Linked DNA regions of Homo sapiens: region 1 is linked to region 2. The links come from fine-mapping of genetic effects on gene expression. A gene starts in region 2. The other region holds a variant in brackets. All regions are shown on one strand. Distances are from middle to middle.

What was found.
Region 1: its variant is fine-mapped to the expression of CPE in macrophages after interferon gamma (Alasoo 2018, PIP 0.95).

The regions. Positions count from the first base shown.
Region 1 is chr4:165,308,940-165,311,851 of GRCh38, forward strand. It overlaps KLHL2 (kelch like family member 2), which reads left to right. Exons shown (of 15, transcript NM_007246.4): 10 at 1,614-1,811; 11 at 2,525-2,626. Among named protein-coding and RNA genes, the nearest start is that of MSMO1, 17 kb to the right of the region's middle. The variant A/G (reference allele first, on the strand shown) is at 1,437.
Region 2 is chr4:165,377,376-165,380,287 of GRCh38, forward strand. CPE (carboxypeptidase E) reads left to right here and starts at 1,633. Exons shown (of 9, transcript NM_001873.4): 1 at 1,633-2,153. The coding sequence starts at 1,847. RefSeq lists a silencer at 1,666-1,925.

The sequences.
Region 1 (2,912 bases), 68 kb before region 2:
CCGTGTATTTTTACAGGGGTGGGGGAATAAAGCACCAGAGGTTAAGACAGTAAGGGGCAGAGGTACATCTCTTGCCTGATAACATCTGCAAAACATTGAGCTCGTCAAACATATCTGGTGATTCCAGTTCTCCCTACAGGGATTCAGAGAACTGTGAGCCACATTGCCTGCCCTCAGGCTGGCACAGGGACATAAACATTATAGAACTAAGAACAATAAAAATTTGAACAATTTAAAGTAATTATATTATAGACGGTACATTTATTAAACCTGAAGTACACAACATAGATGTTATTTGCTATAGGGTTCGGGAGCTGGACATAATCCCTTTTAGGCTAAAGTGGACAGGGAAGGCATCATAGAGAATGTGGAACTTTAACTGAGGATTCAGAGTTAAAGAGAACAGAGTAGATGGTGATAGGAGCCTGTCCGATTAGGACAGCAGCATGAAAAAAGTTGAGAAAAGTGAAAAGATGGTTGAAACCTGAGTCTAGCAGTCTAGTTTCTCCATTCACTGATTCCGTAATATCTCTTTAGCCCAAGGATCAGCAGACTTTCTCTTGAAGGACCAGAGAATAAGTATTTTAGGCTTTGTGGTTATATGGTCTCTGTCACAGCTTCTTATCTACTGCTATAGTGCAAAACCAGCCATATGTAAATGAATGAGTGTGGCAGTGTTCCAATAAAACTATATTTATGGATGGTGAAATTTGAATTTCATATAGCTTTTTACATGTCATGAAATATTATTCCTCTTTTGGTTGTTTTTCAGCCATTTAAAAATATAAAAACCATGCTTAGCTTATGGGTTCTACAGAAATAGTTCGCTGGACCAAATTTAGCCTGTAGCTGTAAATTTGCCGACCCCTGATTTAGCCCACTAACATGATAAACTAGGAATACGTTATGCAAATAAATTATAAGCGTATGGAGTTTCATTCTAAGAATATCCACTAGAAGATCCAAAATTGAAAGCTATGGGAGGTGAGTACAGGTTCAAGTAGTTGGAAAATAATGGCTCATTATTTAAGCTTGTAAATTGATATTTAAAAAAACCAAGAGTCAACATGGTACTTTAGCCCATGCCATTGCATTTTTTAATAACCTTAGAAAGAAGGCCAGGTGCAGTGGCTCACGCTTGTAATCCCAGCAGTTTGGGAGGCCAAGGCGGGCAGATCACGAGGTCAGGAGATCAAGACCACAGTGAAACCCCATCTCTACTAAAAATACAAAAAATTAGTTGGGTGTGGTGGCGGGCGCCTGTAGTCCCAGCTACTCAGGAGGCTGAGGCAGGAGAATGGTGTGAACACGGGAGGCTGAGCTTGCAGTGAGCTGAGATGGCGCCACTGCACTCCAGCCTGGGCGACAGAGTGAGACTCCGTCTCAAAATAAAGAAAGGAAGAAATAATAATAATAATAACCTTAGAAAGAAAGAC[A/G]ATTTAGTGATTGGATGTTCTTGCAAATGAATAGCATTTTCAAGGATTTATTTAATCAGGCTCCTCCTAAGAGTAGCATGTTCTGACAACAGCTATAGATTTATCAGAAAGCAATCTTTGGATATTGGTGGTAGTTGAGTTGCATGTTGATCATTAAATGCTGTACTCCTTTTGCAGGCATGGTCTACATGGCTGGACTTGTTTTTGCTGTTGGTGGCTTTAATGGCTCATTAAGAGTTCGCACTGTAGATTCCTACGACCCTGTGAAGGACCAGTGGACCAGCGTTGCTAACATGAGAGACCGGAGAAGCACTTTGGGAGCTGCTGTGTTAAATGGATTATTATACGCTGTGGGAGGCTTTGATGGGAGTACAGGTAATTTCCTTTTCATTTATTCTACATTGCTGCTAAAATTAACGTAGTAGTCATGTTTATGGAATAAATTGTGGCAACATTAGGGCACATGTGAGGTTTTTTGTGTTTTTTTTTTTTTTTTTGAGATGGAGTCTTGCTCCGTCGCCCAGGCTGGAGTACAGTGGCGCAATCTCGGCTCACTGCAAGCTCCGCCTGCCGGGTTCATGCCATTCTCCTGCCTCAGCCTCCCGAGCAGCTGGGACTATAGGTGCCCGCCACCACGCCCGGCTAATTTTTTTTGTATTTTTTAGTAGAGACGGGGTTTCACCATGTTAGCCAGGATGGTCTCAATCTCCTGACTTTGTGATCCGCCCACCTCGGCCTCCCAAAGTGCTGGGATTACAACATGTGAGGTTTTAACTGGTATTTAAAGATAAGTTTAAAATTTTATCAAGAATTTCCTTAAATGATATGAGTGGTGAGTATATAAATTTTCTTTCTTATGCATCAGTATCAGTCATCAAATTTTAAAAGCTTATAAATATCAGTAGCTTAGGTAGGAGCCTTCTGGAAAACAAGCTGTACCTGTTTTTCATGTAATTGCTGTGTTTATGTTCCACCATTTTCTTCTCTTAATTTTAGCCCAGTATAACATACCTGAAGTATTTTTCCATATATATGAACTATTGACATTTTTTAGAGAAGGAAATGAAGACTATTGTGCTTTATTATAGGTTTGTCATCTGTGGAAGCATACAACATAAAGTCTAATGAGTGGTTTCATGTAGCTCCCATGAATACAAGGAGGAGCAGTGTTGGTGTGGGTGTTGTTGGAGGTAGGTGTTGACAGTTCTTTCAGGTACATGTGGCATTTTGATCCTTGAGAGTGGTTCTTCCAGTAATCTCAACTTTAGTTTTCTGAATGGGCAAGCTAATTATCATTTTAAAAAGAAAAGTCGTAATTACTGTAAAATTTCAGTTATCCTCTTTTTAAAATTAGCTTCTCTATATAAATCAACCTATATAAAGCCTTTTCTCTCCCTCTCTATCCCCCTCCCTTTATCCCTCCTCCTTTCTCTCTGTGTGTGTGTGTGTGTGTGTGTGTGTGTGTGTGTGTTTGAC
Region 2 (2,912 bases):
TTTTTTATTTTGGAGAAAATAGAACGCATATCCTTTGTTCAAAGAGACAGCTAAGGAACAACACAGGACTTCAATGAAAAATATGTTGTTTATGTGTGTAGTTACTAGTCAGTATGCCCCACCTAGCCACAAATTAGTGTGGTTACTCTAAATTGCTAACATGAAAATCTTAACCTCCTACTTCTGAAGTTATTTGGTTTTAGCTACTCAATTTTTTTTTCTAGGCTTCCAAGGTTGCTGTTTTGGGCATGGTTTTAGAAATATAATTATAAGTTTGATTTCAAACTTCTGGACCATGTAATCAAGCACAGACTGGTCATAGTGGAAAATATACAATTTTTAGCTCTGCCTACATTGACAAAAAAAAAAATGGCTGGATCCACATCAATTCAACTTGAGTGCCATGTGTTTACAGTGACAGTTTCTCCCCGAAAACGCAAAAAAAAAAAAAAAAAAAAAAAGAAGATCCATGCTGCTGTAGTATATGTACATAGGGGTGTTTAAAGCCAGCCCCTCCAGCAGCACCTTACCAACCATGTCTGTGCTTTTATTTATTGATCCAATAAGATGACTTAAATATCTAACTCCTTTTCCACGTAAAAGTTTTTATTATGTGCAATGCATTGTTAAACAGGTGAAGAATGAACAAGTTTAGAAAAACAAAGAAGCTTAACATGGAAAATTACCCGCATGGTGTCCACTTTTCCTGCTCGGTTGCAATACCCAATGGATTATTTATTAATTTAGATTTGTGCTGTCCCTGAATCCAAACAGCAGCCTCTTTAGAGTAACATCTGCTCCAGACATTGCTCCAGGAATATAAATCCCGACTAAGGGGTGGATATTTAAAGCTGTAAATGATTTTTTATTTTTACAATAGCTTTGCAAAAGGAACGGAGGTGTCATGTCATCATCAGAGTTTTCTTAACAGGATTTAATCTTAATGCCAAACTAAATCCTTTGTCTAAAGCATCAGCAGAGTTGTACTTATTTTCCCCATAGTATTAAAGAGGAGGGCTGGTGCAGGCACAGCCATATGACATTGCCTTATTTATTTTGTCTGTTTGTTTTCTGGAAGAATCTAGGAATGTGCATAAATACAATTAAGGACAGTATCTACAAATTGGAAGAAAGCATTTCTATTCTCTTAAACCTCTAAATCAAAGCACTTAATGTTCTGATTTCCAGCAAGACCTTCTAATAAATGAAAACCCAACCCTTGGGTTTGTGTTTTGACTCTTGATACAATTATGAAAGACGCATCAGGAGATGGCAAGTGGCTGCCAGTACTTCCTTTTTTCTGGAATATTCTCTAATTCTTGGTGGATCAAGATGGAAACTGGTAGGCTTGGAATAGATGTCCCTTTAAAAGGCTCCACTAACAATACAAGAATATTTTTTCCATACGCAGTGACGTGGGTGGGTCATGGGTGTCTCAATGACAGTAACGTTCCCGAACCCCGGACCTTAGCTGTCATTTCACCTGCGTCGTCCCGGACGCCATTTGGCTGTTGACGTGGTTCCGAGCCAGCAAATAACGCCAGCAGCCCTCCCAGATCCACGCCGGCCCGTCTCTCCGCCGGCCCCCTCCTCGCAGTGGTTTCTCCTGCAGCTCCCCTGGGCTCCGCGGCCAGTAGTGCAGCCCGTGGAGCCGCGGCTTTGCCCGTCTCCTCTGGGTGGCCCCAGTGCGCGGGCTGACACTCATTCAGCCGGGGAAGGTGAGGCGAGTAGAGGCTGGTGCGGAACTTGCCGCCCCCAGCAGCGCCGGCGGGCTAAGCCCAGGGCCGGGCAGACAAAAGAGGCCGCCCGCGTAGGAAGGCACGGCCGGCGGCGGCGGAGCGCAGCGATGGCCGGGCGAGGGGGCAGCGCGCTGCTGGCTCTGTGCGGGGCACTGGCTGCCTGCGGGTGGCTCCTGGGCGCCGAAGCCCAGGAGCCCGGGGCGCCCGCGGCGGGCATGAGGCGGCGCCGGCGGCTGCAGCAAGAGGACGGCATCTCCTTCGAGTACCACCGCTACCCCGAGCTGCGCGAGGCGCTCGTGTCCGTGTGGCTGCAGTGCACCGCCATCAGCAGGATTTACACGGTGGGGCGCAGCTTCGAGGGCCGGGAGCTCCTGGTCATCGAGCTGTCCGACAACCCTGGCGTCCATGAGCCTGGTAAGGGCGCTGCCCCCTGACAGCCCTGGGGGCATCCCGGAGGGGGGCGGCAGAGGGTGGGACTGGTGGCGGTGGGGGAAGGAGGGAGGGATGGGCCCAGGGGTGCCTCTTGGTAAAAGGTATCTAAGGTGGAAGGTGGGAAGTGGAGGGAGGGATGGAAATGGGGAAGAACCCGACTTAGAGCGCCAGTGGCCCAATTTCTGCTTTCCCGTCCCATCCCCCCAGCACCAATCCCATCTCCCCAGACCTTAGGCCACCCTCTAGTAAGTATAGGCTTGGGAGGCTGGGGTGGCGGGGGATGGGGGGGATAGCAATACAGAAAAAACAAATCCTGACGCACGCAACCCCAGCGGTCGCTCTCACTTTGCTGTGTGAAAAACCCAAAGGAATGATTGCGAGTCCCCCGCAAGGGGGGTTGGTCTTCCTTGCTGACAAGAGTAGAAAGATAAGGTGCAGAAGGCAGTGATTGAGAGGAAAGGAGAACGAGGGAGAAAGAGTCATTTATCATGTTTTCTCTAATTTCCAGAGGACCAGTTTATTGGCTCTGTGTACCCATCTCTACCTGTGTGTGTATACGTATTAGGTACACTCGCTGCTGTGGATGCTTGGGGAATCTTAGGGATATTGCCAATCTGGGGTGGTGGTGTATAAAGATACGTTGGTGCCCCTCCTCCTACCAGGGTGAAAAGTGGTTTCTGACTTTTGAAACCAGATTTTGAAACTGCACAAGGCCTTTCCAAGGAAAAAGGAGTATTCCAT